Linked DNA regions of Homo sapiens. The protein of the gene in region 1 purifies or fractionates together with the protein of each later gene. This does not show direct contact. Each region holds a gene or a part of one and is shown in the gene's direction. Other genes may lie near its edges.

Region 1 (4,096 bases):
CCAGGAGTTGAATGCCCTCCAGTCTAGGGACTGGGGACCTGTCAGATCTCCCGAAACTCCTCTCACAACCATGCCCAGAAAGGAAATTCATGACTCAGCTCCCTGAGTTCTCTCTGCATTTTGGTTTTGTCTTTATTCTAGGTCATTTTTTATTCTTCTTGCTGGGTATCTGGAAAGATAGGTTTTGTAATATAATATAATGCCACTGTCATTTTTAGAAATGCGTTGGAAAAAATTGTGAGACAGCAAAATGCATCTAATTTTTTCTCCATTTCTCCATCCCCAAGCCACTTCTCCCAGTCAGCTTTTTGAGGGACAGCCCTCCCTCCCCCATCCCGCCTGTGCTTTATGTCAGAGCCCACTCAGACTGCCCCACCCCTGACCAAAACCTAGGTCTTAAGTGCCCTTAGGTCAGTGCTTCCGGATTCAGAGTGACCAAGGGACTGCATTTTAATTACTTTCAGGGAGCAGAACGATTTCAACCCTGGTCTCCTAGATTATAATCATCCATCCCACAGGCTGTCTGATGGCAAGAATTTTAAGCCCCATTTAAGGTGGACGCTAGAATTATTTCTGGATGGAGCAGAGTAGCACAAGCTGCTGAGCTGCAAATCACCGTGATAGTGGCTGCCCAACCCAGTAACCCACAAGGCTACCACGCCTTGTCAGTGCCACTGTGGTGTGAATTAGACCTTTTTACAGGTTACATCAATGCGGGAGAAGGAAGGGCAATGATGGGCAACAGTGCTGAAATATCTGGTGCTCAGAAACTTCCTTCCTCTTTATTCCTCTGTTAGGTCCCTGGGGAGGGGAACAATGAATGGGAAACCCTAGCACCGCCGTTAGCTAGCTTACAGTGCTATTAGGTTGGTGCAAAAGTAATTGCGGTTTTTTACTTATTAGCAAAACCACAATTACTTTGCACCAACCTAATAGTAGCTGAACAAAAGTGTTTGTTGAACTTAATTGATCTTACAAGACTGTGCCAACATGGAAGAAAAAAAGAAAAGAGCCCATCTTGGAATCAGACCTATCTTTGCTCAAAGTAAGACTCTAGAATGTACCATCTGTGCAACTTGAGGCAAGTTATTTCACCTGTCTGGGTCTCGGTTTTGCCATGAATATGAAAGCTAGTCGTGTCACTCTAGGAGAAGCGGTTTGTGTTGGTGGCAGGTGCGCCCCCTCCCAATAGGTGACAAGAACACGCACTCTCCCGTTCCTGCGTTACCTCCCCCAGGCCGCGCGGTGGCGCTGCGTCTCTGCAGCGGCCCGGGTCTCTCTAGGGCGCTCGGGCGCGCTGGCCCCTGGGGACGCCGAGGGCGGCTGCGACGCGCCGAGAGGCCGCGGTGAGTGCAGCAGCACTGGGGGGGTGGTCGTCCCGACCCCCGGGCTCCCGGGTGGGAAGGAGCAGCTGGGCTGCGCGGAGCAGGCCCCCGTGAGCCCCGGGAAGGAGCGCAGCGCAGGGTGTGGAGCCACCCTCAGCATCCGACCGCAGGCGGGGACGAGAGCCTTGGGCAGGAGCCAGGAGACCCCTTCCCTGACCCCTGACTTGCCGGGGGTCCCTGGCATCACTTCCCCGCCACCGAGCCTTGGACCAGAGGGTTTCTAAGGCCCTTTCGGTGCCGGCGTTGCGGGGTCGCGGGAGATCCGGGGGTCTGTGCTCTGATTCCCGGCCCTGCCCGTCTCTCTTACAGGCTCTCCCACCTGTCACCCTGGCCCTTCTCTGCTTGGATGGTGTCTTCCTCTCCTCAGCCGAGAATGACTTCGTCCACCGGATCCAGGAGGAACTGGACCGCTTTCTGCTGCAGAAGCAGCTGTCAAAGTAGGCTCATGTGAGGGGCGAGGGTGCCGCCTTGCTGGGAAGGGCAGGGTTCCCGAGCCGCCTGTGTGCCCTCCCCCAGGTGGTGCCTGGCAGCTGGCTCTGACCTTGGCCTTTAGTCTTTATAACGCCAGCTGCCTCTTTTAGCTGCATCTTTGTAATTGTGAGCATCACCCCCAGACTGATGGGGCCCGGCACAGGGATTGGGGATGGGACCTGTGGGTCCCTGCGATCACCTCTATCTATGCTCAGATCCTTTGCAGTCCATCTGGGACCCAGAGGGGCAGAAGGGAGCCCAGTGTTAATCCGCGATTAACCTGGGAGTGGACCTGGTAGGGGCCAGGCCCTGGACACCTGCTCAGCACTTCTTCCCCTCCCTCCCCAGGGTTCTTCTTTTCCCCCCACTCTCCAGTCGCCTCCGGTACCTGATCCATAGAACAGCAGAGAATTTTGATCTCTTGAGCAGCTTCTCCGTTGGGGAGGGCTGGAAGAGGAGGACGGTCATCTGTCACCAGGACATCAGGTGTGTAGCCTCCCACCTTGAAGTGCCTGCAGCGGTGGTGTGTGGGTGGCCAGCTAGCTGGTCAGCCTTTGGAAGGGCAGGGCTGGGGGGAACCAGGGCTGGGACCCCCGGCTGCTGCCATTCCTAGCTGCAGCTGCTCAGCCAGGGCTGCCTTTTGCATCAACAGTGGAGCAGATATGCAGTTTGTGGAATTCACTTGGCAAAATCAGCTATATGGTTGGGCCAAAAGAGAGAGAGAGATCTGTTTAAGTAGTGGGTGTGTGGCGGGGGGCCTCCCTAGCATTCCTCTCAGTGAGCTTGTGTCCCACAGAGACCAGAAAAGCACCTGCTGGGCTTCGGTCCCCTCTGTTCCCATGTGCGTCTCAGTGAGCATCTTACTTTAATGACTGTGATCCTAGTGTTTGAAGTGACATGTTTTTCTGATAGCATACTTCTTAAATGCAAGAGCTTACCTCCCCTGGTGTGTAACTGAAGATGGACTGATCTCTAATTTGGATCACAGCACTAGAGGGCAAGCTGGCTGCTCTGGGCTCATGCAAAAGTGACAGCCTCCACTGTGATGCCTTCCTAAGGGATTTTCGAGGGTCATTTTGGCTGTGGTTTTTGCCTAATGCTGACCCGAATGTCTCTCCTGAATGACAAGTGGCTCTAGTAAATCATTTTCCTTTGGGCCCCTACACACTCTGATTACCTCCTCCCATTCCTGCTCCAGGGTACCCAGTTCGGATGGCCTCTCTGGCCCCTGCCGCGCTCCTGCCTCCTGCCCCAGCAGGTACCACGGTCCTCGGCCCATCTCCAACCAAGGAGCAGCTGCGGTTCCCCGAGGTGCCCGGGCTGGCCGGTGGTATCGTGGACGCAAGCCTGACCAGCCTTTGTATGTGCCCCGGGTGCTGCGCAGGCAGGAAGAATGGGGGCTGACCTCTACCTCGGTGCTCAAGAGAGAGGCCCCAGCTGGCAGGGACCCAGAAGAGCCTGGAGATGTTGGTGCTGGAGACCCCAACTCTGATCAGGGACTCCCTGTGCTGATGACTCAGGGAACAGAGGACCTAAAGGGCCCAGGACAAAGGTGTGAGAATGAGCCACTGCTGGACCCTGTTGGCCCTGAGCCTCTGGGGCCTGAGAGTCAGTCAGGGAAGGGAGACATGGTGGAGATGGCCACACGGTTTGGGTCCACCCTGCAGCTAGACCTGGAAAAGGGGAAGGAGAGTCTGTTGGAGAAGAGGCTGGTGGCAGAGGAGGAAGAGGACGAAGAGGAGGTGGAAGAGGATGGCCCCAGCAGCTGCTCGGAGGACGATTACAGTGAGCTGCTGCAGGAGGTGATGAGGCTCTTGAGCCCGAAAAGGGAGGGCGGAGGTGAGGTGGGTGTGGCCGTGGGTGGATGGGGACCAAGGGTTATGGTGTGGAGAGCAGGGGATGTGCAAGGGGAGGTAGGGCTGGGTGTTGGGTGACAGGGATTCCTTAGGGAACTCAGGAGATGAGGTGTGGATTTGGGTCCCAGCCCAGCCATGTAGGAGCTGCTTGACCCTGGGCAAGTTATTTTGTTTGGCTGAGTCTCAGTTTCCTCATCTGAAACTAAAACCAGTTGATAATACAGCCTTCACTAGGTCATGGAGATGGACTCTGTGTGCAAGTACATCGTCTTGTGTTACGGATGCCAGTCATGGAAATTACTCTTTAGCCTGAAGTTTTATCTTATAAATCTTGTTTTCTTGGGACCGTGCGACTGCCCCTGAGACTGGCTGTGGGTTCAGTTG
Region 2 (3,500 bases), on another chromosome or scaffold:
CTCATGTATACATCTCACTTTATTCTTTCCTCTAGTAGAAAAAGGTCCCTCTGGTTTGCCTAAGAAGACTTTTTTTCTGTGCAACAAAACATAAATACAGCATACCTTCATAGTAGACATTCTTTTTCTTTAAATGCTGTCAATTGGAGGCAGATAGGAGCTACCCAGACCTTAGGTATGGTGGAGAAATAATGGTTCAGACTAGGTTTTCCCTTGAATCTATCCCAACTTCTATCTTTCAAGAATTATTTACAGAGTTCTCAGCAATGTCATTCCTGCTAATGGGCGTGACTTCCAAAGCACACATGTTTTGACACTTATAGAAACACTGCAGGTGAGTAATAAGACAAAATGCCGAAGGTGAATGGTGACAGATGAGGAAAGGTTCATCACAAAGCAGACATATGGAACTAGACCTTAAAAACCTTGCCACTGCCCAGTTTATATACCTTTACTGCTGTGCCCCCTAGTGAAGGTGAATGAGTTAGTTTATAGCAGAGATGCCTCTGTAAGGGCAGGACACAGCCTCACCCTTGCAGCCCCCAAATGCACCTAACAATGCCAAGAGCACTGCTGTAGGGGTATTCCCTTGTCACCAAAGCACTGAAGCTGTTACCCTGACAAGGCCTGGAACTGTTTGGAAGTGAGAGAGTAAAGGTGGGGGAAAATTAATTTGCAGAGTTAGAAATAACTTCCTCTGTCCAAATAACTCAGAGCTTTTCAAATACCCAGAACATCTAATGGAACATAGGATGAGCCTGACCTCGTTCCTTTGCCCAAGACTAAGAGCCTGAAGCTCTGCATCCAGCAGAACTGTTGGAGTCGAAGGAAGAGAAAGAGCCGCAGTTGCAGGAAAAAAGAGATCGAATCATCACTCTTAACTTAAACACCAATGCCCTTGGTAGCCTCCCTCTGCTTTCACACAGTTCTATCTCCTTCTCTCTCAGCCTCACTTGAGTTCATTATCACAGCTCCTGTCAAGGACTGAGGACCCACCAGAGCAAGCTGGAGGCAGGTTGCTAGTGCAGCTCAGAGTGTGCACTCCAGAGCCTGATACCGGGGCTCAGTTCCCTCCCCTTCTGTCACTTTTTCTGTGTGATCTTGGACAAATGATGTCATATCTCTGTGCTTCATGCTCCATTAAAGTAAAGAGAATGAAAGTACCTACATCATAAGATGGCTTTAGAGATGAAATGAGGTTTTGACAGATAAAGCACCTGGCTAATAATGACAAGCCAGCATATTGGGTATGCCCGTTATTATTGCCACTCCGTGCTAGTGGGTTCAGGAAGGATTACCTTCAAAACAGAGAACCCAGGCTACTACTCTCTGAACCTTATTCATCTATTTGGCATCTACAGCTGAGTTGCTGAATGTAGCTGGAGAAAAATATTCAACTATGCTTGATGAGCCTTATTTGACATACATGTCCAACAACGTCAAGTGTCCCCTGGTGCCTTCCAGAAATCTGACACTGTTTCTCAACCCTTTCTCTCTCCTGCTCACTCTTAGTTGATAACCATGCTGGCTGCTTTCACTGGAAAAGAGAAACCAGGAAAGAATCGCCACATACTCCAGGACAGCACCTTTCACCTCAGAGTCTACTCGACAGCTCCACATGTAGACATCTCTAAACCATTGTACCCAAAAGTGAACATGGTACCTACTCCTTCCACTTGCTCAGGAGAAAGATCAGGGAGTCATCTTTGACTCCTGTTTTTCTCTCCACACCTCAGAGTTGACCCAAGTCCTATCTGCTCTTTCCCTAAACAAAAGGAGAATCTGACCAGTCCCCATCACTGCTCATGCCCTGGTCCAGGCCAGAATCTATCACTCAGGTTATAACTGGTCTCCCTCCCTTTGCCTTTGCACCCTTAGGATCCATTGCAACACAGCAGATTCAGCAATCCTTTCTGTGAGGTCTCTTCTTCCTCAGAATAAAGGGCCTATGTAAACTGATCATCCTCTCCCCCAGCTGCTTACTCACTCCTCTCCCACCACACTCCCTCCAGGATTCCTGCCTCTAGGCCTTTATGTTTGCTGTTTCCTATGCTTGGAGAGCCTTCCCCTCACCCCAAACCCAGACATCACTGTGGCTCATTCATCTCCTGCAGGCTTCTGCTCCAGTGCTACCTCATCCAGTGAAGCCCTGACTACTTGCCCTGTATAAAATAATACACCCCCGACAAGATCTCCCAGGCTCTTTTTCCATACACTTTTGTTCTATGATTTTATCACCATCTAAACATCTTATTTATTTACTTGGTTATATAATCTGTCACCTGACACTGGGTCAAAAGCACTGCAAGGATATTTGGCTCACTGCTGCATCTCAAGTGCGTAGTAGGTATTCAGTAAATATTTGTTGAATAAAAGACTGCATGAATGGTGATCTCTAATGCCTGTGAGCAAATCAGCTTAGAAAATGAGAATCTACCACTTATTTAGTCTTACTGGATGCCACTGTCTATACAAGCAAGCTTGATTAATCCATATCATCTACATGAGAAGCTCATCAACCCATCCTAATGTCCTACAGCTAAAAGGGCCAAGCCTAGGTTCAGATCCAAGGCCATCTGATTCAAAGAGCATGTACAATGAAAGATTTAACAGCTCACATCAGAAGAGGAGGTGTTTGCAGAAATAATTACTGTTTAAAATAATAACTGACCTTCTCGATATGTTTCCTCTCCAGGTTCATGACTACCTCCGCAGCAAGCTGTGTTCCCTCTATGAAAATGACTGCATTTTTGATAAATTTGAGTGTGTGTGGAATGGGTCAGACAGGTAAGAAAGGCTCTGTGGCTGAAGAACCTTCCAAAGATTGTCTTGAAGAGGCTCAGGGAATTTATCCTAAGTAGAGTACAGCCAAAGGGAGGTCAAAATTGGGCCCCAAAACCTGGCTGAAATGCATAATGTGGGCCCCTAGTGACCCTTGAAGTCAAGGCTGGAAAGAAGAGAAGGATGTAGTAAGGCCTTTGAATCCTGTTTCTGAACTGGCACAGATAACACCTTAATGTTAATAAGAAAGTCCTATCTTTTTCACACAAGACACCTCCAGCACTAGGTCAACATGCCTAAATGAAGATCACTTATCCACCAGCAAATTCCAGCCTGAACAGTTCAGATTAATGCCAAGTAGGCTTTCCAGATCAAAAATTATCCCTTGAAGCTGCTAGTGGAGACCTGGCCAACGGCCCTGGTAGTTCATTAACTGAATTCTAGTCAACCTCATTTATCACATTCCCTCAAAGTGATTTATTACTATTTTAAGGCCTTTGATTTGAACAGTGCTTCATAATACCTCCCAATAGTTCATTTTTAGTTTGACAAATACAAATGATTCTCTGATTTCCATGAGAACTAAGTGCAAGCTACCAGGGGCTGATTTCGTTCCTTGATGAAGGTGGCACCAATAATAGTGTTTGAAAGCATAGAAATTCTGTTATGGCAAGACATTCAGAGATTCAAGCTTTCAGTGAATATGAACTGTCTCTCTC

What was found. Proteins that work in one complex are often made in the same cells at the same time.
Region 2: the proteins of R3HCC1 (region 1) and PPP2R2B purify together in Homo sapiens (pull-down; one large-scale study listed by IntAct). This does not show direct contact.

What each region holds. Positions count from the first base shown.
Region 1 is NC_000008.11:23,286,812-23,290,907, forward strand, and holds the start of R3HCC1 (R3H and coiled-coil domain-containing protein 1), read left to right. Parts: upstream 1-1,296; 5' UTR 1,297-1,346; intron 1,347-1,694; 5' UTR 1,695-1,712; coding exon 1,713-1,822; intron 1,823-2,204; coding exon 2,205-2,342; intron 2,343-3,054; coding exon 3,055-3,658; intron 3,659-4,096.
Region 2 is NC_000005.10:146,592,258-146,595,757, reverse strand, and holds part of PPP2R2B (serine/threonine-protein phosphatase 2A 55 kDa regulatory subunit B beta isoform), read left to right. Parts: intron 1-2,695; coding exon 2,696-2,787; intron 2,788-3,500. UniProt on the Homo sapiens protein: The B regulatory subunit might modulate substrate selectivity and catalytic activity, and might also direct the localization of the catalytic enzyme to a particular subcellular compartment.